Linked DNA regions of Homo sapiens: regions 2, 3 and 4 are each linked to region 1. The links come from fine-mapping of genetic effects on gene expression. A gene starts in region 1. Each other region holds a variant in brackets. All regions are shown on one strand. Distances are from middle to middle.

Evidence for each region.
Region 2: its variant is fine-mapped to the expression of LHFPL2 in whole blood (TOPMed, PIP 0.98).
Region 3: its variant is fine-mapped to the expression of LHFPL2 in whole blood (INTERVAL, PIP 0.91).
Region 4: its variant is fine-mapped to the expression of LHFPL2 in blood mononuclear cells (TOPMed, PIP above 0.99).

What each region holds. Positions count from the first base shown.
Region 1 is chr5:78,644,953-78,653,058 of GRCh38, forward strand. It overlaps LHFPL2 (LHFPL tetraspan subfamily member 2), which reads right to left and starts at 3,820. Exons shown (of 5, transcript NM_005779.3): 1 at 3,547-3,820. RefSeq lists silencers at 3,069-3,128, 3,419-4,358.
Region 2 is chr5:78,503,939-78,512,044 of GRCh38, forward strand. LHFPL2 (LHFPL tetraspan subfamily member 2) reads right to left here. Exons shown (of 5, transcript NM_005779.3): 4 at 5,846-6,460. The coding sequence starts at 6,275. Among named protein-coding and RNA genes, the nearest start is that of LHFPL2, 140 kb to the right of the region's middle. RefSeq lists enhancers at 932-1,440, 6,180-6,801 and silencers at 6,044-6,133, 6,414-6,463. The variant C/T (reference allele first, on the strand shown) is at 4,594.
Region 3 is chr5:78,456,773-78,464,878 of GRCh38, forward strand. SCAMP1 (secretory carrier membrane protein 1) reads left to right here. Exons shown (of 9, transcript NM_004866.6): 8 at 2,473-2,590. Among named protein-coding and RNA genes, the nearest start is that of SCAMP1, 100 kb to the left of the region's middle. RefSeq lists an enhancer at 559-1,168. The variant A/G (reference allele first, on the strand shown) is at 4,853.
Region 4 is chr5:78,479,328-78,487,433 of GRCh38, forward strand. SCAMP1 (secretory carrier membrane protein 1) reads left to right here. Exons shown (of 9, transcript NM_004866.6): 9 at 1-1,412. It overlaps LHFPL2 (LHFPL tetraspan subfamily member 2), which reads right to left. Exons shown (of 5, transcript NM_005779.3): 5 at 5,903-8,106. Among named protein-coding and RNA genes, the nearest start is that of SCAMP1, 120 kb to the left of the region's middle. The variant C/T (reference allele first, on the strand shown) is at 4,849.

The DNA.
Region 1 (8,106 bases):
GTTTTCATTGCATGCGAAACAATTTGATTCACTGGCCAGTAGTTGTGCTCAGCCACTAAAACTGAATACTTTCTAAAGTACAGAAACAAATAGGCCTCCCCTTCTCCCTTTGGAAGACCCACAGGACTAGCCATACCCTGCTACCACCCCCAGCCCCAGCCAGATCACTTCCCTCTGACCAGGCTGGAGAGTGGAAGGCAAGGACACCCAACATGCTGCATTCCAGTACAGCTCTTCTGAGTCAAAAAGGGAGCTTCCAGGGTCTATGGAAGTCCTTTGAAAACAGAGGTGTATGGGTTTTTTTTTTTTCTTCTAATGTGTACTCTGTAAGAGTAGAGGCCTACTCTTGGTACTTGCTGTGTTACCAGAGCCCAGAACAGAGCCTGGCCCAAGGGAGTGGCTCCCTAGGTATTTGCTGAATGACTGGATAAATGAAGGAACAAACAGGCACTCTCCCTAAATTAGCAGAGTTCTTCTTCTCAAGAAGTACTATTGTGCTAAGAATGTCTTCAGTTCACTTTTCTCTTGGGCACAATCTTAGCAAAAACTGGGAATTGCATCATTAACCCCAAGATAGACAGACAGATGCATACACACACACACACACACACACACACACACACACACACACACACACACATTTTTTTTGAGATAGCGTCTTGCTCTGTCACCCAGACTGGAGTGCAATGGTGCCGTCTCAGCTCGCTGTAACCTCCGCCACCCGGGTTCAAGCGATTCTCCTACCTCAGCCTCCTGAGTAGCTGGGACTACAGATGCATGCCACCACACCCGGCTAATTTTTGTCTTTTTAGTAGAGACAGGCTTTCGCTATGTTGGCCAGGGTGGTCTCGAACCCCTGACCTCGTGATCCACCCACCTCAGCCCCCCAAAGTGCTGGGATTACAGGTGTGAGCCACTGTGGGCCCAGCCCCCAAGGCATATATTAAAGCTTTTTGGAGTAAATTCTAGAGATCAGCTATTTGCTTCTTGTTTGTATCTAAGAGCAGTAAGCATTGGGTAAAATGTTGCTTTTAAGAGTCCCAAGAGAGGCACTTATCATGTTCATTACTATAGTTTTCTTTCTACCTAAAATAAAATTTGGATATTCACTTTGGTGGGACCTAATACCTGAAGCTGCCATTGCAACAGGACATGTAGCTTGGAATTGCAAGCCACATCTGGGTTCTACCTCTAGACCCAAATACTGCCTGCACTACAAACTCCCTGGAAATGGAGGCCCAGAAAAGGCTAATCAGAATGAGCCAAAAGGATGCAGCTTGCAAGTTCCAGAAAGATCAGTGTTTTTGAGTGTAGGCTGGCAGGGCATGGGTCCAGACTCAACTCAGAGCCACTGACTCTAAAACCAGGTATCTCTGCATTATAGCTGTTTAACAGGCACCACTTTTTCCTAGGGATTTGGAATACCTGATAATCATCAGTAACACTTTCTGAGCACTTAGCGTGAGGAACCATCCTAAGTCCTGCACAAAAGCAATCAGTTAATCTTCAAGGGAATTATCCGAGCTGAATTATTATCATCACCATTTTATAGACACAGAAACAGAGAAATTAAATAACATGCCCAAGGTTTAGGTACATCTGGGAGCCCAATAGCCCAAATTTGGGTCTCCTATATTTGGGTTTACCACTTCATCAATTCTTTGCAGTAAAGAAGTTGAGAAGCTGTATATAGTGTTCATTAAAAATAAATATGTAGTTTTTTATATATTGTTTTTCTATCATCTCCTACTATGGACTTTTCCTCCCTGCCCAAACACTGGGTGCCATCAACACCGAGCCCATGCATACGGTGAACAGCATACATTACTTCTTCCAGAAGGCACTGCTTTGTTCTCATCTACAAAAATCCTTCTTCCTTCCTATAGACAAATGACTGGTTCACATATCATGACTCAATTTATATTCAACAATGTTCATTTGCAGTGTAATTATTCTTCCTAATTAGGCTGCTCTGAAGACAAATGACTGCCCCTCCCCATCCCCCTCTCCTACAACACACAATGTCTTTTTCCTGATATAAAATGTTTGCTGCACCCTTTGCAAACCACAAGAAGCCACAGTCTGCTCTCCATGTGACCACTTAGAGAAAAATACTATTATAAGATAGTGTTTTATCTGATATTACTTCAAAATCAGAATCAGATTTCTAACAGATCAATAAGCTTATCACAGTATGACAGCAAAAAGAAATGAGACTCTTGGATTCTATTTCTCTTTCCTATCTTAAAAAACATTTCCTCTTCCCGCGAACATGTGTTCTCTATCTCTTAAATTTAAAAAGGAGTAGTTTCTAAAAGAGAACCAGTAGGAAAGAATCAGGAATACCAGCAAAAGTCAACATCAAAGAAGTCAGTATCTGATCCTCTCTTAAACCTAGCAGGAGTGGAGCTCTCTGGCCAAGGGGTAAGGCAAAAGCAATGTGCAGGTTATAAATGTCCCTTCAAGCTCAGTTACTCCGGTTTACCTCTCTGGGGTGAGCCTCTAACAGCTCTGGCTCGCCGGAATCTTTCCTCCCTCGGCTCCAGCACACACTTTCCATAGCGGCCGCGTTGCAATTTCAAAGAGTTCTCCTTTCCACGTAGGTCACCCACCGATGGTAACCTACATGCACAAACACACTCGCACAATCACAACAGAGAAAATGGGACATACAGGAAATGGCCCGGGTGGAGGCGAGGACGGGGGTGGGGATAGGACTTTGTCTTTACTCTGGTGTTGCTCCCATTGAAACAAGCACATGGACTTTCATGGAACTCATGACCATCCTGAAATAACAGAAAAGTCGAACGGGATTGAAGAAAATCCTTTGCTTTTCTAAGTTCGAAGAACACTGGGCCGCTGAATGGAAGGGAAAAGAAAAAAAAAAACTGTGTGCCTAAAAACATCCAGAAACACACGCAGAGTCTCCCCAGTCCTTTGCCCAGCCCGTGGGCTCAAGCCGCCCATCCCAGATGCGGTCTTCCCCACTCCACGCCCACCTCTTCCAGCCCGCACCCCAAATCACTGAGCTGCCCACAAAAATGCAGTCCAGATTTGAGAAGCAGCTGACGTCTGTGGCCAGAGTGACCCACACGCCACGGACCAGGGACAGCAGGGGCGACCACGGGGCGGCCCCCAGGGAGCGGTGCCAGGCGCGCTGGAACCCGGCGCCCAGCTGCGCCTGGGACCCACGCGCCGCCGTCCGAAGCCCGCCAGCGACGCCCAGAGAGCAGGGCTCGCGCCGGCTTCCCGAGGAGACGCTGTTCCCGGCACAACTTTTTTCCACTTCTGCGGCCGCCGGCGGCGCTGAGAAGCAGCTGTTCCCTTCCCATTCCCAGCACCCAACGCCCATCCCGCAGCACCTCCGACCGCTCGGCGCGGTCTCCCAGGGCGCCGAAGCGAAGTTCCCGCGCCAGCCGCGGCTCAAGCAGCCAGGGCTCGGCCGGCCGCAACGGCTCCCCATGCGCCCGCGCGGGGCGCCCACCTGGCCGGGCCCACCGGCTCTCCCCTCCCGCAGCGCGCGCGGGCCCGACGCCTGCCACTCACCCGGCCCCAGCTCGGCGTCTCCGGCTCCGAGCCCGCAGCCTTCCCCAAGTCAGGGCTTTCAGTGACGCCTCCTCGCAGCCACCTCGCTCTTGCCCCCGCTGGCCGCGCCTGGAAGAAGGAGGCGGGAGGAGAGCGAGAGGAGAGCGGGAGGAGGCGGCGGGAGAGGGGGGCAACGCAAGGGAGGGGAGAGGGTCCGCGGCGCGGGGGAGGAGGCAGCGAGGCGAGAGAGCGCCAAGCTCGGCGGCCGCCCGGGCTAGCACTCGGGGAGAGGGAGGAGGAGGAGGGGCGGGGGCAGCGAGAGAAAGAGGCGGCCGAGCCGCCCTGCCCAGGCCCCGGCCCCGCGCCGCTGCCCAGTCACCATCGCCGCCTCCGTCCCGCGAGCGGGCCGGGCGTCCGGGGGAGGGGTCGGGCTCGGGGCTCCCGGCGCGGCGCGCGGGGCGGGACGGGGGCGGCGGGCGGGCGGACCAGGCCCGGCCTCCGGAGGGGAGTGTCCTGCGGGTCCGGGAGGGAGTCGGCGACAGGGGATCCCCGAGAGGGGGTGTGGGGGCCTGGGAACCGGTCCCTGAGCCCGCCGGGCAGCGGCGGCGGCGTCTCCCGGGGTCCTGCGAGGTTCCTCCGGGCCGCACCGGGGAAGCTCCCGGAGCAGCTTCGAGCAGCCCTGCCGGGAGGGCCGGAGGCGGAGAGCGGCGCTGACGGAGCCGGGGGAGAGAGGCCAGGCTGCTCCGGCGGAGAGCGGGCCCCGGGGCGCTAGGAGCAGTTCCCCCAGACCCGGGCCCAAGCGGAAAGAACGGCCGTCTGGTGACCCCGGAGAGTCCGAAACGGGAAAGGGGCCAAGGGGCGCCTGGACCCCCATCCTCGCCGCCCTCTTCCGGAGAGGAGGCTCCGGACATAAGTTCCCGTGCCCTCTGAATATCTAGGTGTGGAAACTCAATTCCAACAGTCACAAAGATTATTCCTAAATAGAATGCTTGGTGTCCTCAGCTTCCCTGCCCTCAAAATTACGGTTTCAGGATGATTTTCGGAGGCGCTTTAGGAACAGCCTGAAAAGGCATTCTTGTCCAGAGAGGGGATGCTTTAACTCCCCAGCTCCGCCCCCAGGGCTGGGAGCAAAGAACAGAGTTAAATGGCCATGAATTCAGGTGCCAGTATTGTTTGTGATTGAACTGTTAGGACGTGGCACCTCTCTAGGCAAACCCATCTTGTATTCCACCCCTCGCCACCCCCCCGCCCCCCGCCCAGTCAAATGCTCCCATTCCCAGTTTCTCAGCCCCTTGTCTGGGACACCTCTATCCACCAGTCGCCCAGATTCAGATTAGCAGTCAATTTTGGGCCTCGCTCCTCCACTCCCGGTAGCCAGTCCCATTAGTTCTTCATTTTTAATGCCTTTCCAGGTGCCATGTCCTTTCAAGCCCACTGCCGCCTTTCTGGTTCTCGCTATCTGGCACTGGATGGCGTGAGCGGCCTCCTACCGGTTCTCTGCTGGGGTCCTCTCTACACTTGCATCCATATGCGCAGGCCTACAGGTGAATGGCTCTAGAATACCCCTCAGGCAGGCCACTTCCTGTTCTAGAAGCTTTCTGAGGCACTTTGCCAGAGAACATTCTGAATTCCTTAAAAATCATCAGTTCAAAACCATACAACAACTGCACCTCCATACGCACTTCTCAGAGCCTGGGACTCTCTTTAGATGGGGATCCTCCCCTCCCCCCGAGAAAGATCCATGCCTGTATCTACACGAGAGTTGCTGATGCTCTTCCCAGAGCTGGAATGCTCTCTTTCATCTTCTCCCGCAGCCAAATTCCACTTATCTTCATTGAAAATGAAGTTTGCAGTACCACATTTTTGCTCTAAAAGGATATATGTGCTCTTTCCATTTTGTGAAATCACACACTAGAAATAACAGGGCTTGTGGGGAAAGTAGGGTTAGAAAATGACTCAGAATCTATGTAACATTGTAACCACAGCACTAACAAAAACTAACCATTCCAAAAAAAATACCAGTAGAGCTAATGAACTGTGTTAAATTCCTAATAAATACTATAGTACATGTAAATATACGACTTTACTTTTATAAAAAGATGAAGATAACTGTTGAAGGGGAGTTGTTTGAGGCTGCTGACTTGAGATAAACACAAAATGTACAAATAAGAGGAGAACTCTCTGTCCTGTCCCCCAACCCACATCCCACAAATCCTTCCAAGGTAGAGAGGTCAAGGCCAAATCAATCCAAGAGAAAGAATGTAGGGTGAAATGGGCCTACAGCACCCTGTGTTCTCTGTAACTAGATGCACCCTGCTGTGTTTTGCAGCTGTAGTTACTTGGTGGTGCAGAAACATTAAAGTGCTGGGAACCCTTGAATATGAACCAACACAACTCCACCCATTTTACTAATATCTAATAACTAATGAGTTAGTTTGTGTTATCCATGCTCTCATTACAGAAACAGCCTTGATAACAGAGTACACTGTACTTAATTCTATGTTTAAAAAGTAGACTAAGGCTGGACATGGTGGCTCACGCCTGTAATCCCAGCACTTTGGGAGGTCGAGACAGGCGGATCACCTGAGGTCAGGAGTTCAAGACCAGCCTGGCCAACATGGTAAAACCCTGTCTCTACTAAAAATACAAAAATTAGGCCAGGCACAGTGGCTCACGCCTGTAATCCCAGCACTTTGGGAGGCCGACGCAGGCGGGTCATGAGGTCAAGAGATCAAGACCATCCTGGCCAACACGGTAAAATCCCATCTCTACTAAAAATACAAAAATTAGCTGGGCATAGTGGCGCACGCCTGTAGTTCCAGCTATTCGGGAGGCTGAGGCAGGAGAATCGCTTGAACTCAGGAGGCAAAGTTGCAGTGAGCAGAGATCACGCCACTGCACTCCAGCCTGGCGACAGAGCAAGACACCACCTCAAAAAAAAAAAAAAAAAATACAAAAATTAGCTGGGCATGGTGGTGGGCACCTGCAATCCCAGCTACTCAGGAGGCTGAGGCAGGAGAATTGCTTGAACCCAGGAGGTGGAGGTTGCAGTGAGCTGAGATCATACTACTGTATTCCAGCCTGGGTAACAGAGAGAGAGTCCGGCAAAAAAAAAAAAAAAAAAAAAAAAGTAGACTATACTTCATCCCACACATTTACTGAGCACTTACTATATGCCAGGGACTGGCTGTTCTAGGTACTGGGGATACATCAGTGAACAAAAAGAAATGCAAAAATGTCTGCCCTCATGGGTTGTGGAGACTTGAACACACATCACCAGATGGTTTGTATTATTCAGGATATATGTTTCATATGTGTGTAGCTTGAATTGATGCATGTATATTTTAATCTATTGAAGACTAGGGTTGAGCCTTACTTACGTCTTTGTATCTTCCCCAGTGTCTGACACAGTAAACTACTATTGGGACATGTAAATTAGGGCAATTATAGCCATTTAATACTCTGTGTTATGGAATTCACAGGAGAACTACCTGTAAAATATAAAACTAATTTTTCTCAAAACTGTGTTTGCAGATTTTTGGGCAAAAATCAAGACATGTATCCCCAGATGGGATAACTTGGGTCTAAAGAGCAGATAAATTACACTTAATATGAAGCAAGAAGTTAGGGATGGCAAAGTAGGGAAGAATAGAGAAGGAGACAGATGCTAAAAAGTGTAGTTCATGAAGAAAGTACATTCTAAGTTCTGTGGAAAGAAAGAGAACAGCAGGAACTTTGGGATATCGTGAATCCTGCTTTTATCATGTGCTTCAGACACATTTTCAAGAAGCACTCACTACAAGGCATAAACGAAGAGGAAATTAGGAGAAATTAAAGGGTGTCTGCACATTTTGGTCAAATGACAAGGAGGCCTTGGAAGAAGATTATTGAGCCAGTTGGATAGGTCATGCGGTGAAATTACAGTGATGTCTGGCTAAAATGTATGGTACTGAACTTACTTGCCTGTGCAAATCACTCTATTCTTTGAATGTCTGAACACTGTACTCCACCTAGAGTACCTTGTTTCAACACGGCTAGCAATTTTTCATATGTGAACACTTTGCATCCTATTTTTTTCTGAGTAAGAATCTGCTTGGAGTTAAATAAAATATGCATTTATAACAGACAGGAAAGCACTGATATATTTTCATGATTGTCAGCATACTGACTATTGATTAACTTTAAGTTTGCCTATTCATCTTCATTAAAACCTACTTCCCAAATCCACCACCACCCACTTTAAGAGATTAATTGATATTTCCTTTTTCTTTCTTTCTCTCTCTCTTTTTTTTTTTTTTTTTTTTTTTTTTTTTTTTTGAGACAGAGTCTTGCTCTGCTGCCAGGCTGGAGTACAGTGGCGCAATCTCCACCTCCCGGATTCAAGTGATTCTCCTGCCTCAGCCTCCCTAGTAGCTGGGCTTACAGGCGCACACCACCATGCCCTGCTAATTTTTGTATTTTTAGTAGAGATGAGGTTTCAGTAGGCTGGTCTCAAACTCCTGACCTCAAGTGATCCACCCATCTCAGCCACCCAAAGTGCTGGGATTACAGGTGTGAGCCACCACGCCCAGCCCTATATTT
Region 2 (8,106 bases), 140 kb before region 1:
TCTGCACATAGTAGGCATCCAATACAAGTGCCTAGGACTGAAATTGAATTCTGACCTACCTTCTCATAACATGTCTGCATTTTTTTTACTTTTTACCAAGGGACTACTAAAGGCTGATGAATTAGGAAATGTGTCCTATCAGTGGTATTTTAAAACTGATTCAGACACGGAACTGTTGGACCTGACTTCTGGTGGAGCATCATCTGTCTGGACAGCCAGAAACCAAGAGCCTCCCTTTGGCAGCCAGAAGTCCTCAGGGCCTTGTGCTCACCAGGAACAAAAGGAAGGGCTGTTCCCTCTACTCTCCCCATGCCTCTTTGAGGGTGTTCTGAAGGTGGGCAACCAAGGTCACACCACCCCAGAGAAAGCCCGGTGACTTTTTCAGGAGAAAAATTCTGAGGCAGGGCTCCATGTGTGCCAGGCATCTCCGTCCATCTCCCTATGCTTCCCAAGCCCCTGTTCTGATTTCTCTCCTCTCAGTGGCTGACCTTGTCTTTTGGGCCTGAGAGTGAATGAGTAGGGCATGAGATCAGTCATGGGGTTGGGCTATGGTCATAACCTTGATGCTTAAGGTGATTTTTTACCCTGTGTAAAAAGCAGTAAGAATACCAAATCCTGGAGAGTGATCAGCTGCATTTCGTATGCCCACCCATACTTCCATGCATCAGATTTATGACAAAAGCAATTATATAAGCAGCAAAGGCAAAACCCCCACGTGTCTGTCTCTGCTTTTCCTTTTATTGCTTTTTTTCATGTTGTCCTCTTTCACCCTCAATCATTGCTCACTTCCAAGAAGGCTGAGCCTGCATACACCAGGCCCTTCACCGCCACTGCCAGCGCCATTCCCACGACCACACACCCTTCACCCCAGCCCTGCAGAGGCAGGGTTCAGCCCCAGGGCAATCTATCTGGTCAGACTGGTGGGGCAGCTTGCTAAGGCTGTCCTGCTGGACTGAGACCCATGCAGGCAGAGGGCTGGAGGGAGTAGAGTGTGAGAGCCAGCCCAGCATAAAGGGAAGACTGGAAGATAGCAGGCAGCTGGCCGGTGGCTCATGCTTATGGCAGTCCCTGTGGAATAGGCCCAGCCAGCACAAGTGAGCCAAATCCTGAGCTCAGTTTAATGGCTTCGGTCCCAAACCTGAGTCACTGGGGATTCCATGGACTTCTAAGAGAGCCCTACACGCATTTCCAAAAACAAACTGCTTGATGTTGTCATGGAAAACCTGGATCTTTGCATTCTATGGTTTCACGATGGATTACATCCAGGTCACAACCTAAGGAAGACAGCTGGCAAAAAGCCAACCCTGCTGGCTGATCACCCGGCTTTTGTAATGAATCCCAGAGGGATGCAAACTGATGTGTGTTGCTGCCTCTGCCAAGTCCTTGGACAAGTTCTCACCTCATGAAGACTAATCAACCTGTGATTTACTCCGCCAGGAGAATCTCAGAAGCCACCTGCAATCAACACTCAACGGCTAGAAGCTGCCTCCAGAAAGAGAAGGAATGGAAAATGTGTGTGTCAGGGGAAGGGGAGGGGGAGGAAGGAGCTCTGTTTTCTTGTCAATTTGACTGCTCTCTCCTGCCTTTTAAAAAAATGATCTGAGGACACCCCTGGTTACACCAAAGCCACAGGACTGCTGTGCACCCTGAGCTCCAACACAGGCAGGCTCTTAAGGACAGGGAAGGCCCCTACACACTGTATTTGTGTTTGATTGGAACAGAGTAAGGTCAATTCTAAAAGCTACAAGATATCCCTGTTCCGTAGAATGCAACAAATCCGGGAAACAAATAATATACTAAAACTTGCCAAGAAAGCAGAAATACTTTGATAATGATTCTATAGCTACCATTTATTATTTACTGTGTGTTAAGCACTATGCTTAAGCCTTTCTCATATATTATCTAACTTAATCCTCAGAACAGTCCTGAGGTATAAACCTATTGTTATGCCCATTTTACAAGTGAGAAAACTATGGTTCAGAAAAGTGAGGCAAATTGGTCCGTGTTTCACAGGCACATTCAGGTGAGGCCTGAACCCTCATTACTGAGTGAGTGCTGAATGTCAAGGACATGTGCACAGTATTTAGAAAGTATCAGCCGGGTGTCCACCTAATGGTGCCCTGAAGGCAGATCCTGCTATCTGGATTCACATAACAGGCAATGATTATATTTCATTACTGCTTAAGTTAGCCCAGAGTTTGGGATTTCCATTGAAGTAGCAGATTCTTTCACACCCAGTTTCTAAACTCAGAATATCAAGATTTTGATTATTTATGCTGTGTTTTTTTATAGACAGTGAAGGCTACACAAGCCTGTGGCCTATTTATATCTTAAAATTAGGTGTAGCAAAAGAATATGCTTACGATCATTTCTCATCCAGTCACATTTTTGCCAAAATGTAAGTTGTAAGAACAAACACAGCCTGAGTGTATTTCTAAAGAATCCTTTTGTTGCTCTGGCAACAGCCTCCTTTCTCACCATTTGTTTCAGTGTTGAAGAGATCCAGGGCTGAGGGAGAGGGGGCATAGGGAGAGAAAAGGCAGATGCTCCCAGCTGCAGCAAGTCCTTGCTGAGGCTGGGGCTGACCAGAGGCTATCACAGATTGGCCAACGGGAGAAAGCAAGCCAGCCCTTTCAGATGCCAGTATGGCAATGTCCTCAGCCACAGATTCAAGAACCACAGCTGCCCTTTACATTGGCTTGATGTGCATGATGAGACCTCCAATAGGGGAGAAAGTGCCCACTGAATCATGAGAAGGATAGCTCAGTCCCTCTTTTTTATGATTTTTTCTCTGAGGGGTGATGCTAGGCTGGAAGGAGAAAAGAAACCAGTTCTTTCCTGTATTTCAGCACTTAGTCTTAGATCAGTGGCTCCTAGACAGCAGTCAAACTATGCAGGAATCTCTGCCTTGTGCCAATTTAAAATTCTGAGTAATTTCAGAATTTTTGAGATGCTGCATAAGTAACAGGGGTAGGGAGGAAGTTAAAGCTTCCAGACTGGAAAGAGGCAGAAGATCAGCACCAGCCCTCAGCAGTGCTCCCACTTCTTTCTCCTCAACCTTCCTCCAAGAGACCTTGTGCAGAGAGAAAAGTCAGAAAAAACTCACTGGAGGCCAGGATCAGTGGCTCACACCTGTAATCCCAGCACTTTGGGAGGCGGAGGCAGGTGATCACTTGAGGTCAGGAGTTTGAGACCAGCCTGGCCAACATGATGAAATTCTGTCAATACTAAAAATACAAAAATTAGCCAGGCATGGTGGCAGGTGCCTGTCATCCCAGGTACTTGGGAGGCTGAGGCAGGAGAATCGCTTGAAACTGGGAGGTGGAGGTTGCAGTGAGCCAAGTTCCTGCCATTGCATTCCAAGCTGGGCAACAGAATGAGAATCTGTCTTAAAAAAAAAAAAGAAAAGAAAAAGAAAAAGAAAACTCACTGGAGTGTTCAAATAATACCTGAGAGCCATACTAATCTTTGTGCAATAATGAACACCTTGCCATTAATGTGATGCACACCAGAGTACCAAAATATGTTGGACTAATCCACACTCAGACATGGAATTCACTCAACTAACGCCTTATTATAAACTGCATGTAAACAGTCTTGAAGGATACCTATGCTTTGCTTCTGAATGACTGCCAAAGATAGGTTTAGTGTTATGGCCCAAGATGTCCCACCCCTTCCAGTAAATGGCCACTGGTTTGCTCGAAGGTAGTTAGATCACCATCAAGTTCCTCAGGATAAGAAGCACTCCTACATGACAAACCAGGAGTCTCATCTACATACCAGCAAATCAATAAAGCCCATAATAAAGGCATGAAATCATCAAGGATGTGCAAATACAACAGAGCGAGGGAAAACTAAACAGAAATCCTACTCTCTGGTCAACCAGGGCTCTTCAACAGGATTAATAATTAGTGTGTGCTGGCTTCCCTTGAGCTACATGTTTGACTCTTCAAAAGCCTTCAGTAATACTTCCCTGCAAAAGTTTTAAGATATACACATGCATACACACACACACACACACACACACACACACACACATGCCCCTGAGGCACCGTGTGTCCAAGGAGAATAAAGCAGGGATATTTCTCTGACAAGAAAATGATGAATCAATCTTGAAACCCACCTTTAATATTTCTGGGTGGTGAGATGCCAAGCTGAAGGGGAGAGTCATCTTCAGAAGTGAGTCAAAAGGGGACAAGGAGCTTCACAGAATCAAACTCTAAGCCTAAAAAGTCCAAAGGAAGGTCACATTTTCCAATCTCCCTATTTTTCAGAAGGAGAACACTGAGACCCGGGGTGGTACATTTATCTCAAGTGAAACTGCTAATGAGGAGCAATGCTGAAATACAGAATCCTGGTCTCCCAAATTCCATGAGTGCCTGAGTCACTTGTGGTGTGGCTGATCCTGGCAGATGTAGAGATGAGGGACCTGAGACTTGTCCCTTTGGGCCAGAAAGTTTAAAGGGCCTGGTGTCTGGATGGTGTATTCCCCCATGAAAGCAAATCAGAACTAAGGAGCAGGCCCTCTGTCATTTCTCTTGGCCCATTACTCCCCATCCCCCACCTCCACCCTACACAGGGGCCTCCTAAGAT[C/T]TGAGGAACAGTAAACTTTATCTTATCGGCTGTTTGGGAAAAAACTGTCATTTGATCTGTTTATTTGGAAGCCAGCCCTGCTGAGCTCAAGAGTTTGCTATGAGGCCAGCTAGAGTGAATTCGTTTGGGGGCTGCTGCTTTACAGCCCTGGACATATGGCTCAATGCATAGCTTTATTTTGAAGAATCCTGTGCACACAGCTCTAGAATTTGCTGAGGGATGAATCACCTGTGCCCTTCATTTAGTGTTGTAGGTGGGTAACTTTGTCCTGTTAGAGTCTAGATTAATGTCTTGGTTAAAAAGTAAGCACTTGTTTTCTGAATATCAAAGCAAGAGTCTACTCTACTTCTTTGGGGATGTATTCAAACTCAGCCATGTGTTTTTGTGTGTGAATTTCTGTCACCCAGAACAAGAACCTTGAATCAAACCTAGACAGATTGTTACCCCATTGGTTCAGGACTCACCTTTCAAACCCATGCGGGGAAGCCTACGAAAATACTGGTAGCAGTGGATGCTTTCCTGCAGCTCACAACCTTCTCCCTGGGACCACTGTAAAGAGCTCATGCTTTTACTTTCCACCCATTTCTAATAAGCTCGTTAGTGAGAAATTCCCAGAAAATGGAAGAGTTCGCTTGCATTTTCTGATCTGAATGCACAGAACATTCTGTCAGGCTCTAGGAGACAGACAATTTAAACCAGAACATCACTAAACACAGAGCAGCTGATACTAATTCCTTCCCAGCCCGTGTCTTTCCCACCCAAGCTGAAATCATCTGGGGGCTGGAGCTGAGAGTGGATGCGGAAAGCAGGCTTGCTGCTTCTTAATGAGCGCCCCCGCTTACATTCCTCTTAGCATAAAGTGCTTGCTGCAGGTGGGACTCACGCTCTCCATAATTCCTCAGGGAGTTGCACTGAAGTGGAGAGCATGCTTTTAATTTAATGGGAAAAACAAAAAGCAGGAGTAGTTACTCAAACTAAAACCAACAGCTTAGACCCCGAGGAAATAAGCAATGAGGAGGACCACGTAAGACCAGAGAACAAGCCTGTCTTCCTGTGGGGTAAGACAGGGGAAAGAGACCCATGCGAGCAGCACACAAACGTCGCCTAGAACGGAAGGGGCAAAGGAAACCTGAATAGACAGAAAGTGGTCTTCTCCAAAACTAGCAGGAAGCGAATGCCCAGTACCAGAGTGCGCTGCACCGGCAGCTCTCCATCCCTCCATCCCACCGTGCCCGGGGTCCTGCCTTCTTACCTGCAATTCCTTGCAACAGCCCACAGACATTGAAGATGCTTTTCTTCATGATGCTCTGTACACACATGGTGAAGACGGACACCAAGGCCACCATGCAGAGAATAAAGATTCCCACAGCCAGGAAAATAGCTGTGGCCTGCCAGAAGCCGCTGGCGATCTCGCCGAAGCTCTCGGCGTAGGGCCCGCACAGCGTGTCCCGCTGGAAGTGCTGCACCCCTGGGTTCCGGATGCAGCGGGCGTAGATGCCCAGGGTGGGGTGGTAGGGCTCCGGGGAGCCCCCGCCCGGGCCCGCCGGCTCCACGCCGCCGCGGCTCCTCGCTTTCCCGATCAGCCAGTCTGCACTCATGAAGGCAATGAGCTCGGCAAAAGCCACCACAATACTCAGCAAGGTCCAGAGCATCGAGCGACAGGTGACAATGACATGACACATATTGATGTTCCGGGCGAAGAAAGAGTCAGGAGTCCACGGAGTTAATCAAAACAAGAAAGTCGGTGGGGAAGGAGGCTCGGGCGGCCCGGGAAGGAAGTCGCAGCTGCAGTCATTCACTCCCGCCGCCGGCCGCGTTCATGCTGGGGACAGCGCTCCCGGACCCAGAGCACCGCCTGCGGCCTCACCTAGGGGAGAGGGAGGGCGGTTAGCAGCGCCGCCAGGCCCCGCCCCGCCTTCCCGCCGCGCAGCGACACCGTCCAAGTCCGGCCCGTGCCCGCAGAACCCTGCCAGCAAGCCCCGGGCCTGGCTAGCATGCCAGGCGGTTGTTGCACTGGCTGCGTTTGTTTCAAGTTCTTCCTGACCTCACTGCACTTAGAACTCTATGTGGCAGTTAACCTTATCTCTAGGGAGCACCATGGAAGGAGGCGGCCAGTGCCAGGTCCTGCTCCCAACCCAGGGGGCACTGTCCTGGTTGCTGCTGCACTTTTAGGACAGGGCTCCCGCTCCCTCATCTTTTACTGGAAAAAGTCAAACAGCACAGGGATCCAGAGAGGAGGAGGCAAGACTGGCAATCAACTCTATTAGTGGATGTTTTGTTTTGTTTTTAAGTTTGCAAGACTTTTTGCCTGCTGTTTTGGTACTAGGTGAGCTAAGTTTTGAGAAACTTGGACCAAGCGCTTTTGCTTAACAGTAGAGAGTAGCAACACCCCGCTTTTATTTCCTCGAAATTAAATTACTAGCAGAGACATAAGTGTGTTTGCTTCATAGGTAAATAGGAAAGAATCACATGTAAAAGAATAAACAAAACATTGCTCCCATACCTATACTTTATCCATTTTTCACAGGGTGATTTTTAGACAAAATAATTTACACTAATTAAAACTCAGAGGGGAAAAAAAAAAAACCTTAAGAGTTCATGACTTACTTGGGGAAATTATTTTTAAAAGACATTAATGACCGTTAACTAAGCATCATTACAACTGAGTGGACTTGTTGACAACAGAACCTTGTCTATGAAGAATGCATCCCTTGAATTGTCCCAATTCATCCCATGTGCCTCTGCCTAAGCTTCGATTCACCCCAGGTCGGGAACTCAACATGCCCATTGTTTCTCATTTCACAGAGGCCTCATTCTGTCTCCACGGAGGAATGACTTCATTACCAGAAGACATTGCTCCAGTGGCTCAAGCCTTCTTCAGAGGAGTCTGGACCCTGAAATGGGGGCCAGCAGGGCTGGTTTGCAGCCCCATTTTCTGCCCCATTCCAAGGCCAGGAACAATCACATAGCTCACATCTGGGCACATGGCCCTGCTCTGAATGATTAGATCTCATTAACCGAGGTCAAATCAACTCCATGAGAACTGCAAAGAGCCCCCTGGCATGTTGGGAGTGGGGTGAGGCAGGGAGTTATCGAAGAGGAAGAGAAGCGGAGAAATAAGGAAGCCCAGTGTCAAAGCTTAAAATGCCCGTTTCTACACCCTGCACCAGCTGTCTGCCTGCTGGCTGACTTCCTAGTGAGCATGTGACTCTACCCATCCCTTGAAACATGATGTATTTTAAAATCCTCATATCATGGTAGTTGCTATACAAGATGCTATTTTGGGGACACAGCTAGTGCACTACTAGGAACATATGCACTTAATTGTCAGGGTGTGTGTGCGTGTGTCACAGCGCTGTGCCAAGCACTGGGTAAGGGAAGGGAGTCCATCAGGTATGGGTTCCAAAGCCAGCTCCAGCACTGACCATATGGATGCCTAACTTCTCAGAGCTCCCTCGTCTGAGCCGGTAAGGGTAGCCTACCTCACCAGATTGTTGCAAGGAATGAACAAGA
Region 3 (8,106 bases), 190 kb before region 1:
AGAGTGTTTTCCAACTTGGTTCCATTCTCCCCATCACTTTCAGGTACACCAATCAGACGTAGATTAGGTCTTTTCACATAGTCCCATATTTCTTGGAGGCTTTGCTCATTTCTTTTTATTCTTTTTTCTCTAAACTTCCCTTCTTGCTTCATTTCATTCATTTCATCTTCCATTGCTGATACCCTTTCTTCCAGTTGATCGCATGGGCTCCTGAGGCTTCTGCATTCTTCACGTAGTTCTCGAGCCTTGGTTTTCAGCTCCATCAGCTCCTTTAAGCACTTCTCTGTATTGGTTATTCTAGTTATGCATTCTTCTAAATTTTTTTCAAAGTTTTCAACTTCTTTGCCTTTGGTTTGAATGTCCTCCCGTAGCTCAGAGTAATTTGATCGTCTGAAGCCTTCTTCTCTCAACTCGTCAAAGTCATTCTCCATCCAGCTTTGTTCCGTTGCTGGTGAGGAACTGCGTTCCTTTGGTAGAGGAGAGGCGCTCTGCGTTTTAGAGTTTCCAGTTTTTCTGTTCTGTTTTTTCCCCGTCTTTGTGGTTTTATCTACTTTTGGTCTTTGATGATGGTGATGTACAGATGGGTTTTTGGTGTGGATGTCCTTTCTGTTTGTTAGTTTTCCTTCTAACAGACAGGACCCTCAGCTGCAGGTCTGTTGGAATACCCTGTCGTGTAAGGTGTCAGTGTGCCCCTGCTGGGGGGTGCCTCCCAGTTAGGCTGCTCGGGGGTCAGGGGTCAGGGACCCAGTTGAGGAGGCAGTCTGCCCGTTCTCAGATCTCCAGCTGCGTGCTGGGAGAACCACTGCTCTCTTCAAAGCTGTCAGACAGGGACATTTAAGTCTGCAGAGGTTACTGCTGACTTTTTGTTTGTCTGTGCCCTGCCCCCAGAGGTGGAGCCTTCAGAGGCAGGCAGTCCTCCTTGAGCTGTGGTGGGCTCCACCCAGTTCGAGCTTCCCGGCTGCTTTGTTTACCTAAGCAAGCCTGGGCAATGGTGGGCGCCCCTCCCCCAGCCTCGCTGCCGCCTTGCAGTTTGATCTCAGATTGCTGTGCTAGCAATCAGCGAGACTCCGTGGGCGTAGGACCCTCCGAGCCAGGTGCAGGATATAATCTCGTGGTGCGCCATTTTTTAAGCCGGTCCGAAAGGCGCAATATTCGGGTGGGAGTGACCCGATTTTCCAGGTGCGTCTGTCACCCCTTTCTTTGACTCGGAAAGGGAACTCCCTGACCTCTTGCGCTTCCCAAGTGAGGCAATGCCTCGCCCTGCTTCGGCTTGTGCACGGTGCGCGCACCCACTGACCTGTGCCCACTGTCTGGCACTCCCTAGTGAGATGAACCTGGTACCTCAGATGGAAATGCAGAAATCACCCGTCTTCTGCGTCGCTCTCGCTGGGAGCTGTAGACCGGAGCTGTTCCTATTCGGCCATCTTGGCTCCTCTCCGCATGTTTAGTTTTCTAAAGAAACAGACAAACTGTTCTCTAGAATGCTTGTGCTATTTTACACTCCCACCAACAATTATGAGCAATTTAGTCTCCACTTCCTCACCAGCATTTAGTGGTTATTACTTTTTATTTTAGCCATCCTAATAGGTGTGTAGTGATATCTCATTGTGGTTTTGAACATCTTTTCATGTGCTTATTTGTCGTCTTTATGTCCTCTTAGTAAAATGTCTCTGCATGTCTTTTATCCATTTTCTTAATTTTTGTATTCTGTTGAGCTTTGAAAGTTATGTATATTCTAGATGTGAATCCTTTGTTGGATATATGGTTTATAAATATCTTCTTTCATAATTCAGCAGAATTGAAAATAAACATTTAAAAAAATGTAATAATAGGCCAGGTGCAGTGGCTCACGCTATAATCCCAGTTTGGGAGGCCGAGTCAGGTGGATCACGAGGTCAGGAGTTCGAGACCAGTCTGACCAACATGGTGAAACCCCGTCTCTACTAAAGATACAAAAAGTAGCCAGGCGTGGTGGCACGCACCTGTAATCCCAGCTACTCAGGAGGCTGAGGTAGGAGAATCGCTTGAACCCAGGAGGCGGAGATTACAATGAGCCGAGATCATGCCACTATACTGCAGCCTGGGCAACAGAGCGAGCTTCTGTCTCAAAAAAAAGAGTAATAATAAATTCAAAACTCATAAGCTTAAAAAATGTACAGCTTAAAAAATGTACAGTCTGGAATTAAACACTTGAGACTCTGGAGTTTGGTTTGCTTTTGAATTTAGACTATGCCATTTATAAGCTGTGTGACCTCGGGCAGATTACTGAATGTCTCAGTTCCTCATTTGTCAAATGGGGATTTAAAACAGCATCTATCCTATTGGGTGGGTTGTGAGAATTAAATGCACTAATACACATAAAGAACTTGAATATTGCCTGGCTGATAAGTGTTGAATATGTGTTAGATATTATGCTATTTTTAAAAAGTTTACATCAACTTTTGCCTAATTACACTTTTTATTACTTTTTAGTGGTTGGATTTCATCCCTTACTGGTCTCAACCAAAATATTCCTGTTGGAATCATGATGATAATCATAGCAGCACTTTTCACAGCATCAGCAGTCATCTCACTAGTTATGTTCAAAAAAGTAAGTGAAATTTTATGTCTAAATTTTTATAGTGAACGTGATGTAAAGTTCTCATTTTCCTATTTTGCTATAATTTGGTGTAACCTGAAGCCATTTTATCGTTATTGTATGAGTTTGCTCTCTGAGGATTACTTTTTACAATTAAAAGTTATGCATAAGTACATTTTAGAAAATTGCATCACATTTTAAACTTCAGTAAAAAGGGAATATTTTAAAATCATTTTAACTGAAGGCTTTCATGAGTTAAAGAGTCAGCCTCATTTTTAAAATTTGGATTTTTAAATATACTCTAAATTTCTTTTTTTTGATATGAAGGATATTAGCCTGTTAATAAATAGAAGTAAAATTATTATGTGATATGTACATTTTATTCATATATATCTCTTAGGTTTTTGTTTTGTTTTTTAATTTTTTATTATAAATTCAGAGGGAACATGTGCAGGTTTGTTACATGGTTATGTTGCATAATGCTGGGGTTTGGGCTTCTATTGAACCCATCACCCAAATAGTGAACATAGTACCCGATAGTTTTTCAAGCTTTGCTCTTCTCCCTCCCTCCCTTTTGGGTCCCCGGTGTCTGTTTCCATCTTTATGTCTGTGTGAACCCTTTGTTTAGCTCCCACTTCTAAGTGAGAACATGCAGTATTTGATTTTCTGTTAGTGTGTTAATTCACTTAGGATAATGGCGTGCAGCTGCATCTATGTTGCTACGAAGGACATAATTTCATTTTTTAGGTGGTGTAGTATTTCGTGATGTATATGTATCACATTTTCTTTATTCAGTCTACTATTGATGGACGCTTAGGTTGATTCTGTGACTTTGCTATTGTGACTAGTGCTGCAATAAGCATATGAGTGCAGGTGTCTTTTTGATAAAATGATTTCTTTTCCTTTGGTTAGATACCCAGTATAGGGTGATTGCTGGGTTGAATGGAAGGTCTATTTTTACTTCTTTGAGAAATCTCCATACTGTTTTCCACAGAAGTAGAACAAATTTATATTCCCGTCAACGGTATATAAGCATTCCATTTTCTCTGCATCCTTGCCAACATCTGTTGTTTTTTGAGTTTTTAATAATAGCCATTTTGACTGGTGTGAGATGGGAATTATTGTGGTTTTGATTTGCATTTCTCTGATTGGTGATGTTGAGTTTTCTTCCATTTGTTGGCTGCTTGTATGTCTTCATTCAAGAAGTGTCTGTTGATATCCTTTGCCTACTTTTTAATGGGGTTTTTTTTTTCTTGTTGATTTGTTTAAGTCCTTTATACATTCTGGATATTAGTCCTTTGTCAGATGCATAGTTTGCACATATTTTCTCCCATCCTGTAGATTGTCTCTTTACTCTGTTTATTCTCTCTTTCTTTCTTTTGGTTTCTTTTCTCCTTCCTTCCTTCCTTCCTTCCTTCCTTCCTTCCTTCCTTCCTTCCTTCCTTCCTTCCTTCCTCCCTTCCTTCCTTCCTTTCTTGTCTTTCCTCTATCTGTCTCTCTTTCTGTCTTCCTGTCTCTTTTGTGAAAGAGAGTCTCACTCTGTCACCCAGGCTGGAGTGCAGTGGCTCAATCTCAGCTCATTGCAATCTCCACCTCCCGTGTTCACACAATTTTCCTGTCTCAGCCTCTTGAGTAGCTAGGATTACAGGTGTGCACCAGCATGCCTGGCTAATTTTTATATGTTTAGTAGAGATGGAGTTTGACCATGTTGGCCAGCCTGGCCTTGAACTCCAGACCTCAAATGATCAGCCCTCACAAAGTACTGGGATTACAGGCATGAGCCACCACGCCCAGCCTGTTTAGTGTTTCTTTTGCTATGCAGAAGCTCTTTAAGTCCCATTTGTCAATTTTTGTTTGTGTTCCATTTGCTATTGAGGTCTTAGTAGTAAATTCTTTGTCTAGGCCAATGTCTAGAAGAGTATTTCCTAGATTTTCTTCTAGGATTTTTGTAGTTTGAGGTTTTACATTTAAGTCTTCAATCCATCTTGAGTTAATTTTTGTATGTGGTGAGAAGTAGGGGTCAATTTTATTCTTCTGCATGTGGCTAGCCAGTTTACCCAGCACCATTTATTGAATAGGGTGTCCTTTCCCCATTGTTCATTATTGTCAGCTTTGTTAAAGATCAGTTGGTTGTAGGTGTGTGGCATTATTTCTGGGTTCTCTGTTCGATTGGTCTGTTTTTGTACTGGTTACCATGCTGCTTGCTTACCATAGTCTTTTTTCTTTTTTGAGACAGAATCTTGCTCTGACGCCCAGGCTGGAGTGCAGTGGCAC[A/G]ATCTCGGCTCACTGCACCCTCAGCCTCCCCAGGTTCAAGTGATTCTCATGCCTCAGACAGCCAAGTAGTTGGGACTAACAAGCGTGAACCACCATGCCTGGCTGATTTTTGTATTTTTAGCAGAGACGGGATTTCACCATGTTGGCCAGGTTGGTCTCTAACTCCTGGCCTCAAGTGATCCGCCCGCCTCAGCCTCCCAAAGTGCTGGGATTACAGGTGTGAGCCACTGTGCACTATAGTTTGAAGTCAGGCAATATGATGCCTCTGGCTTTGTTCTTTTTGCTTAGGATTGCTTTAGCTATTCAGACTCTTTTTGGTTCCATATGAATTTTAGAATTGTATTTTCTACTTCTGTGAAAAATGATGTTGGTAATTTGATAGGATTGTATTGAATCTATATATTGCTTTGGACAGTATGGTCATTGTAACAATATTGATTCTTCTAATCCATGAATGTGGATGTTTTTCCATTTCTTTGTGTCATGTGTGATTTCTTTCATCAGTGATTTGCAATTCTTCTTATGGAGTTCTTTCACCTTCTTAGTTAAATGTATTCTGGATGTGTGTAGGAGTGTGTGTGTGTGTGTGTGTGTGTGTGTGTGTCTATTGTAAATGGGATTGGGTTCTTTATTTGGTTCTCAGCTTGAACGTTGTTGGTGTTTAGAAATGCTACTGATTTTTGTATGTTGATTTTGTATCTTGAAACTTTTTGTTGGTTTTTTGAGACAGAATCTCACTCTGTTGCCCAGGCTGGAGTGCAGTGGTGTGATCTTGGCTCACGGCAGCCTCTACCTCCTGGGTTCAAGCAATTCTCATGTTTTAGCCTCCTGAGTAGTCGGGATTACAGATGTGGCACCTGGCTAATTTTTTTTGTATTTTTAGTAGAGATGATTTCGCCATGTTGGCCAGTCTGGTCTGTAACTCCTGACCTCAAGTGATCTACTTGCCTTGGCCTCCCAAAGTTCGGGATTACAGGTGTGAGCCACCACACCCAGTCTGTATCTTGAAACTTTACTCAAGTTAGTTATCAGGTTTAGGAGTCATTTAGGATTTGTAACTGCCCAGTTGTTTTAGCTACACTTCTTCCTGTAGAATTCCCATGTCTGTTTTCACAGCTTTAAAAAAAAAATCATTACATAGAGGAAGGTAAATTAGTGTTTTTATTTGTTTATTTAAAGTTTTATTTTGTCTTGGATATATGTAATTTTGATATATTTTATATGTATTCAAACATGATATTGAGACCTTGGGAATAACACCTATGTTTTAAATGAAAAAGACTTTTTGATAGGTCTCACTTTAAAGAAAATAAGTCCTTATAATTTTTTTTACCATTTCATTACTTGAGACTATGTATGAGGAATGCATAGAAATAATTTTACCTTATATTTAAAACCACTTTTACTCTTTCAGTACTTTACTCAGACATTTGTCTTTTATCCTTCTCAAAACCCTACGAAGGTTAGACTGTGTCCGTTCTTCCATATTTTCTCTATTTGAAATTTTTAACTTCTCTTCTGCACCAAACACACATACCATTGACACTCAGCTCTCTAATGTTACTAAATCCCTTTTCCAGTTTTCCTCCTCCTTAACCTCTGTAGCTTTCTACACCACAGATGGCTCCTCTGCTAAGACTTTGCAATGATGTTCTAATTCTCTTGACTCTCTGGCTATTCTTTCTCCTCCATTTCTTCATCCAGTTCATAAATTAAGGTCTTAAATGTAATCGGCTCTTTGTGCTATGCAGTCATTTTCTTTGGGAATTTCATCTTCCCTTATTATTTCAGTTTCTTCTCTACCTAGATGACCTAGAATCTTGGAATTGGAAAAGATAATGCATTGCATAAACCTTTAGTTGCATCTTCAATTGGTCATTTTCATCTCCAGTTGTTGATTGATGTCATCTTCTCACAGTAATGCCTCATAAACTCTTCAGTTTCTTAGTGATAGATGTTCCTTTTGAACGTTCTGAGTAATATTCAAGAAGCATTTATTAAGACCACATATTGTATAGATTCCATTATTGTGAAATGTATAAAATGGGCAAATATATAGAGACAGAAAATGTATTACAGCTTGCCTGTGGCTTATGGGTGGGGTGGGGAGTGAGGGTAATGAAAGTATTCTAAAATTAGGTTGTGTAGATATTATAGTCACAACTCTATGAATATACTAAAAATCATTGAATTGTACACTTTAAAGGGTAAAATGCATAGTATACAGATTTTATCTTAATGAAGCTTTTTTTTTTGAAGAAACACTTATTGAATACCTACTAATGAGATGGCACTAAGCACTTTATGTAATTCCATTGAACATTTTTGTCAGTGCTGTGATTGCTTCTGTCAGTGCTTCCATTACTTCTTTTTTGAGACAGAATCTGTCTGTCGCCAGGCTGGAGTGCAGTGGCGCGATCTTGGCTCACTGCAGCCTCCGCCTCCCGGGTTCAAGCGATTCTCCTGACTCAGCCTCCCAAGTAGCTGGGACTACAGGCATGCGCCACCACACTCAGCTATTTTTTTTTTTCTTTTTTTGAGATAGAGTCTTGCTCTGTCACCAGGCTGGAGTGTGATGGCGTGATCTCTGCTCACTGCAGCCTCCAACTCCCTGGTTCAAGCAGTTCTCCTGCCTCAGCCTCCTGAGTAGCTGGGATTACAGGCATGTGCCACCATGCCTGGCTAATTTTTGTATTTTTAGTAGAGACAGGGTTTCACCATGTTGGCCAGGATGCTCTTGATCTCCTGACCTCGTGTTCTGCCTACTGGGATTACAGGCATGAGCCACCACGCACAGCCACTTCCATTACTTTTTAATTCACTTTCTTAGATACCTTTTTAGTATCTTTTCCATTTCCAACCTCAGCTAATCCAGAAATTCTTTTTACAGGTTACTTATATTCCCTCATCCTTCTCGCAGTCCATTTAATATATAATTCCTATATTAACCTTAAAAAAACCCCAACAAATTGGCACTCTGCAGATTTTTGACGTGGATCTGGGATTGGGAACGGCATTTTGGTGGCAGTGCGAAGAAGGGCTACATTCAGAAACACCAGCATTGCTAAGGTTGTAAAAACACACTACATGCCATAAAGCCATCAAATGGGCCTTAATAACCTAATGATGAAATCACTTTTATTTTGCTCAGCCATACTCTGGGCCCTATGCAGAACACTTCACCAGTATTATGCCATTTTGTCCTCTCGGAGAATCACAGATTGGGATTATAGTGGTGGTGGGAAGAAGGGCTA
Region 4 (8,106 bases), 170 kb before region 1:
CTTTGATACATTTTAAAGTACAATAGTATACATTTATTTAGAGTAGACTAATGTGTTTAAAACATGAGTTGTTTTAAATACTTTTTTATTGAGCTAAAAAGTTTTATCTCACATATTAAGTATTACAGAAAGTGAAGTATTTTGGCTAGAATTTTAGGGCATATTTTATAAAGCAGCATGCCTGTAATATTGGTGGGTATTTTTAAACTTTAGGACTTTATCACAGTATGTAGAGAGCTAGAAATAAATCTAGAAACTTTCTAAGCCAGGTATTGCCACTAACCTGTCTTATATAAGCAGATACCTCTTATTTGAAGATTGTAGGAAAATAGAGAAAGACTGTTCTCCAGTTTTCTCACCCCCGCTGTGGGTTTTATATTTACAATTTAACTTTGGGGTTTGGGTAAGACAAACATTTAATGTATAGGATTTTGGCCAGGTGTGGTGGCTCACGCCTGTAATCCCAGCACTTTGGGAGGCCAAGGTGGGCGGATCACGAGGTCAGGAGATCGAAACCATCCTGGCTAACATGGTGAAACCCCATCTCTACTAAAAATACAAAAAAAAAATTAGCTGAGCATGGTGGCGGGCGCCTGTAGTCCCAGCTACTTGGGAGGCTGAGGCAGGAGAATGACGTGAACCTGGGAGGCGGAGCTTGCAGTGAGCCGAGATCTCTCCACTGCACTCCAGCCTGGGCGACAGAGCGAGACTCCATCTCAAGAAAAAAAAAAAAGAATTTTCATTAGTGCTGGCCGTGTTTCAAATGGCAAGGGAACATGGGAACTATCATGTGGCAATGTAGTGAGTGTTAAACTTTGTGTTTGTCCAAATCCTGATTTATTTTTCAGTTCATATCTTTCTGGGCTTGACATGGCTGATGGTGTAGCTGAAACCCTCCTAACACTAAAAGCCATTTAATCTTTTCTGTAATAGGAGCAGAAAATAGTTAATCATCCACCTAGTAATATAAGATTACTGTGAATATTATCTTCTATACATTAAAACAGTTCTAGTTTGTAGAATAATACCATACAAGTTTTATTTTTAAATTCTAGTTATTTTCAGTGCTTACTTAAATGTAATTCTAGAATTCCTCCACAACTTTTAATATTTTGTATGCCAGTGATTCTCAAGATAAATCATGATTGTAGTAGTTGTTACTGTTGGCAGTTTGTAGTAGTATTCAGGTATTTTGGGGATGGGGGAAAACACCAAAAATCAGTGTCTTTTATCTGGTGATCACTGTGGTATCTACAGTATTCTAGTCTCCTGCACAAAAACTGAACCCACTGGGCCTATGCATCCCTCACACTTTTTTTCTAGTATAAAAGCAATACATAATGTGTTGTAGAACAATTAAAAATTCAGAAAGTGATACATGAGAAAATAAAAATAAATCCTTAATTCTGTCATCTTGGGGTACCTCTGCTAATATTTTATTGTCTTCCATTCTTTTTCTATGCATATGTGTTTTGTTTAGTTAAGAGATATAAGCAATATGGATTTTTAAAAACCTTATTTTCCCCTCACTTAGCTTTATGTCATAATGGCGCAATAGTTTAGTTTTTTAAATTAACTTTTTTAATTTATAAAATTAATGTATATTTCAGTATAAATTATAGAAAATATAAGCAAAAGAAATAACCAAAATTCTCATAATTTTACATCCATGAATAACTTCTATTAAAATCTGGTTTATATCTTTCTATTTTTCTAGGAAGACAACTTCCTAATATTAAAAATGAGATGACCCCGTACATCCTTGTACATCCTTTAGGGATGTCTACCTACTCCTCAAAAGCCCCACTTCTTTGGGTCCTTAAAGTCCACATTGGTACTGGATGTCATCTGGCCATAGTGGACTCATTCCTGGCTTATCAGTTTTTTATTCTGAATGTAGATATGTCTAGAACTCTACTGTTCCAGAATTGGAACATAAGAGGTAGCCATTTTCTGCCATGAGGAAGGAATCACCAAGAAAGCTGGTCTGCAATGAAAATGAAGAATGAAACAGACATAACAGGAGATGTAAAATGAATGACATAGAAAAGATCTTAGTGGCTTTCCTTTTCCTTTATGGAGCCCTACTTCTCACCCTTATCCCATTATCCTCATAATCTTACCGCTTTTTCTCCCTCAACTATCTTGAATTGGTTTCTTATTACTTTTAACTGGAGGATCTTAACACAACAGTTTATCTTATTTCAGTTATGATATAAATATGTATTGAAGATTTTAATATCTCTGAATATATTTCTGTAACATTTAGTATAGCTATATAGCTAACATCATATGTATGTATCATAAAGTCTTGTTATTCCTTTAGGTTCTGATTTTCAGGGTTTTAAAGTTATAAATAATTTATCAAGGAATATATTGTTGCTAAATTTGGGGACTCGGGCTTTTGTTTTTTCTTTAGGACAGATTGCTGAGTTAAAGGGTATTATGCATAGTTTTTAAAGCACCTTTCATGTGCTTTGCCAAGTTGCTCTCCAGAAAAATTTTATCCATATGTAACTCCATCAGCAATGTACGGAAAGGCCTCTTTCTTCACATCCTTGGCCAGCATTGGATGTTCCTTTTCTAAAAAGTCTTTTATCCCAATAGATTTTGACAAATCAGGTTTCTTTTCTGAGCATTCTGGTTTCACATGGCTTATGTGCTCACCCAATGCTACCGGTTTGTTTGTTTGTTTTTGTTTTTGCTAAATAGGAGTAACTGAGTACCCTGCATCCACTGAGAAATCTTCTGCTTCCTGAAAGCTCTAAGGTAAAGATAATTAGCTGAATGCTCTGTTATAACAGGATGGAAAAAGAAATGGTGGCCTCAGGTAGCCAATCCACTGAGTCTCTCCAGGTAAAATTACACTGGTTTCGACAAGTTATGTTACCTTTCATAGAATGTAATTTTAAAATGATATTAGTCTGGGTGGGTAGTATTTTCTTAGTTTTTTTCTAATAATAGCTTATTGTGGGCTTAATTATATACCAGTGTTCTGTACTAAATGCTTTATATACATCACTTAATTTTCATACCAAACTTGTGATATAATTTCTGTTGTTGGCTCTGTTTTTGTAGAGTTCTAGGAAATTACCCCAAGGTCACTCAGTGAGTGGTGGTGGTGAAGGGCTGGAGAGGGATGATGAGAACAGGCAGGTCCCCTGACTCCTGCCAAGCGTGGCTGCCCCACCATGCCGCCTCGTTCCAGTTGTCTTCCCTTTCATCCTTCCACATTTCCAGTCATTCATGTCCATCCTTTAGGGACAACAGATACTAGAAAAAAAATCAACAAAAAAAATTTTTACATATATTTTTGAAGTCTCCAGACCAAATGCTAACACCTGCCACCTAAAGGTGAGTACCTGCTGCCCATTCTTCAGCAGTGTAAATTTACTAAAGGGTCTTTGGCGTTTGTGTGTTTGGAGAAACTTTAGTCGAGGACAAATCCTTATTATTAGGTTAAATATGCTTCTTATGTGATTATAATAGTTGCTTACCCTGAATGAGAGATTATTTATACTAAGAAAACAATAAAAACTGTCAAAGCCTATCATTTATTTTCCCACTGTCACATACTTAATGAATTTCTTGTGTCTGTTTTCAGGATTGAGCTAAATCATGATTGATAAATTGAGACATATGGTGTCATCTTCAAAATTATGAAAAATCACTAGGTGTTTTCTCTGAAAGGGAGGAAGAAGCAGTGTTTTCATCAGTTGTGATGGTGAGGCCCTTTTGGAGTTTTATTTGGAAGTTATTCTAAGTGTTTACAATGTAGAGATATTGCCCAGGAGTTTGCATTGGCTGCCTTCCCACCTTGTGCATTCCAGGTAGAAGGAAACAACATAGCAGTTTGAGTGAGTTGCCTTTGGTGTCAAACATGTATCTGAGCTTTGGCTTTTCCGCTTATTAGCTTTCTAACCTGGGATACATTATTTAACCTCAGTTATTTAAGTGACAGTTATCTGTAAAACAATAGTAACAGTTTCTATCTCATAGGATTTTGATGAATAAATGAATTTTATGAAGTATTTAGCATAGTATCTGCCCATAGAAGTTGCACAATAACTAAGGACACTTACCATCTCTCAGGTGTATTGATGACTCCCAAATCTCTCTCTCTCCTTAGTATAGTCCTAGCTGCACACAGGACTTCTACATTGGCAGCCTAAGCTGAACCTCCTCACCTTCATTGTCCCTGCTTCTTCTGGAGTCTTCATCTTGGTGATCACATCACCTTCCACTCAGTGTCTACGCTAAATACCTGGCTGTCATCCTAGACTCTTTCCTCTCCTTCCTCTCCACTTCTGATCAGTCACCTGCCCATTCTTTTTCCCTAACATAGAATTCATCCCATTGACTGTCCTTTACCATCACTGCCTTAATTCAGGCTTTCGTCTCTTGTGAATAAAATCATAGTGGTTTCCCCTAAACATAGGCATTTGGACTGCCTACCTGTAGGTGTTCAATTTTTCAGGATGTTTGGCTAGAAAAAGCTAAAAAGCTGCTAATAGCAATGTGTTACTTGATTGACTTTTCTTTCCCATGTGGTTTTGGTTTCACTACTTCCTCTTTTTGTGTGCTTTTATCTGTGTCCTGTGTACCTTAGTAAAATTGGCAGTTCTTGTCTGCAAGACTTATCTTGCACAACTGTTCAGGGTAAGGAGAGGAAGTTGCAAGGAAGAAGATAGTAGTAGGGGGAGCAGTGGGATGGCTCTGCCAAATGACTCAGCTGCTAGTGAGGGCCTCTGAAATAAAGTTATTGGTTCTTACTGCTTTGAAGAGTAAAGTTTGCTTTGATACCCTACCCTTCATTGTTTGAGAGTTGAAAAAGATTGTTTGAAACTA[C/T]TGAAATAATATCCACATAAAATATCCACGTTAGTAAGGACCGTTGTAAGTGGTTGTTTGGTTAAGCAAAAACTTTAAGGGGGTGTAGGTGTAATTTGAATGCAGCATGTTCCAGAAAGATCAGTGTGGAAAGTGGACCTAGTAGCAGAATTGCTAGATAACAACTAAGGATGGGAAGCGGGGGAAGCACATGGGAGGATTCCCCAGCTTCTGCTAAAATTCAACCAGGGTCCATTCTCTGTGTGGATTAACTTTTGGGGAATACAATAACAGCTGAAAAAGCAATGGAAATTTTCTAATTTTTCTTGGGTTATTCAAATCATGATTATTTGGAAAACTGTGTGTGGTTTTTTTAAACTGATATGGGTAACTTTGTCAGCTTTTATTAGAAACCAAAACATGAATCTAATTTCAACTGTCATAGGCCCTAGATCAGGGGAAGAAACTGCCTTTTTTTGGTATGAAATAATAAATGCTTCATGGGATACAGAGAGTTGAGAGTTGAGAAGGGCATTTAGTGTCATTCTTGAGTTTATAAATTAGAATTCCACCTCTTCTGGATGAGGGTTTATATGGCCAGGATTACCTTCAGGAAACATGGATGTGGAATGGCACCGTATCATTGGCTTTTATTTTTAGGGATGTTGTTGGAAGAGGAGGATGTGTCTTTCAGTTAACTTTTCCCCTTGTCATTGTTACATATTTATGTTTGAAAATCCCTTTTTAATACTTCGGAGCATTTTCATATTTCATAGCTTTACTTTAAAATATATGTTTACAATACTTGAGATGTTTTTTCCTATTTACAATTGTGTTGATGCTTCTTCAAGGAAGAAATACATACTTGACGTTAAAGAAAGATAGCCCAGGGTAGGGACATATATGTTACTAGTGAATGGGATAGTTTAAAATACCTGAATATCTTTTTTCCATTCATCAATATTACATGTAAGTTAGTGTTTAAAATAAATGTTGACTGATTGATAGGTATTTTCTTGATCAGATTATACACATCATATTGAAGCCAGTATACTCAGACTTGAAAGAATAAGAATGAATTGCAAAATCTGGTTTAATTAAGATCTGGGGAGGGGAGCACATAGTGAAAATACATATGCACAGGAACCAAATCAATGCTAGACAATGTATTAGTTTACAATATAATAGGATAACTACAAGTTTGAAGGCTCAAATTGAGTCCATCAGCTGTAAATACAATTTTATATTTGGCTCAAGTGGCTGTTGAATATCAAGTGGTGCCGAGTCCCTCCAGAGCACCTACTGACCCCCTCAGCCTTGGAAGGAGTTTCACCACAGTCTCAGAAGAAATCCCAGTCGTGCCTTTAACTCTTTTGGCCCTTGGGAGTCATTGCAACCCCAATACAAATGCCGGCCCAGGGATTTCCAGTGGCCACAAGTTATTGCACAGAGAGGTCTGTTCTAAGCCAGACTCTTACAGCTAAGGAGGTGTGAGATTAGCCCTTAAATACTGGTCTAGCATTAGCATGGTCTATAAAAGCATGTTAAGAAATAGCTCCTCAGTGATTATGTACCAGCTACTAGTTATCCTACTAAGAGAAAAGGCAACATGGCAGCTTCACATTTCACATGAAAGACTAGCATTAACTGGGCCTGGCGTGCGGGCTTAACTTTGACATAACACTAGCGATTATTTTAGACCCAGGAAAAAATGATTTCATACCAGTCTTTTCTTCACATAAGATTTGTGTAGCATTAAAATTATGGGTTACTGAATAAGCCATGAAGGCAAAAATGTGGAACTCTCCTTGCCAAAACAGAAACAAACATCCCTGTTTTGACTCCTGTCCAGTTTCCAAAACAAAACAACAAAACATACATACACCTTTGTTATTGCACATCTTTCACACAAACTTGTGTATGTATAATATACATATATATTTTTAAATATGCTACACATAAAAAAAGACTATGGCACTTTACAGAATATATGTTTAACAAAGATCATTACACCACAGATGTTTGAAAACTATACAAAAACCCTTATACAATTAATGCAACATTGTTTGAATTATTAGCACACAGGTTTAAAGAATCCACAGAATCCAAGGCAAATATTTCTGCCTCAGAGTTCATTGAGAAGCGCAGCCCATCCCATCCCGTCATGAGACTTTCTTTAAGCCAATTTCAGGCAAAATAAATAAGACTTTCCTGGTAGTAATAATGGTCCTATTTATTAGAAAAATAAGTGTGAGCCAACAATCTATTTTTAACATTTCTTTCTAGCATATTCCTCATACCCAGTGGTTTTTAAACAGCTGTGTGGAAGAGCATGGTTTAGACTAGCATGATTTTAGATGGTCCTTTCATCCCAAGCCTGGCTAATGGATTCAAGGTTTAAAAGTCCCAACATTACCTTTTTACTATTTACTAAGTCAGTGTTTAGGTAGTTTTTAGTGGTTTGGGGTTCTGTGTGTGTGCATGCCTGTGCTTTTGTCTTCTGTTGCATTCAGATTAATAACATAAACACTATCGAGTGAGTTTATTATGGCCAAGAAGTCACACTCCCTTGTGACTGTTCCCAGGTTGATCTAGAGGTACACTGCCACCTTAGCCAAAGAGCAGGTGATGGACATGCTCGGAGGATCCTGTGAGCTTAGGACTTAACTTGTAAGGACACTGAGATTGTAAACCTAGTGTCAGAAAATGGTTTCTCTATCCAAGAAAGAAAGAAAAGTGAGTCTTCTGATAAGTTTATGGAAAAATTTTGTGTTTTTCATCAAGGTTTGAGACTTGGTTAGAACATTATAAATGTACACACAGAGACAGAAGCTTTGTCCAGTGGCTCCTCCAGCCTCTTTCTGTGTGGTGTTAGAGATATGGTTAAGGTTTCCTAGGCTGCTATGAAGATACCCGTTTTTTTCTTCACCAAAATCACAGGATTTACATCTCACTCACTTTGAATTTTGGTTCAGGAATGGGAAACTCATTAAGGCTAGTTCCACACCTCCCACCCCTTTTGCCCTTAGCCCTTAATCTGTGAGAAGATGGTTTCTCATATAGGCCAAACACCAGAATGTAGTAAAACTGCGGTTGTCCCATTCCATCTCTGTATAATTATCTGTTCTGCACCAAGATACGGTGCTTTAGACTCAGACAGCTTTAACATGATTCACTCAGGGCAAGGTTGCAAACTCTGAAGTCAGGGTTGTATAGCTGGTAGCACAATACCTTGTCCACAGAAGGTACTTTTTCAAAACAAAGTCCTCAAGTGAGCAG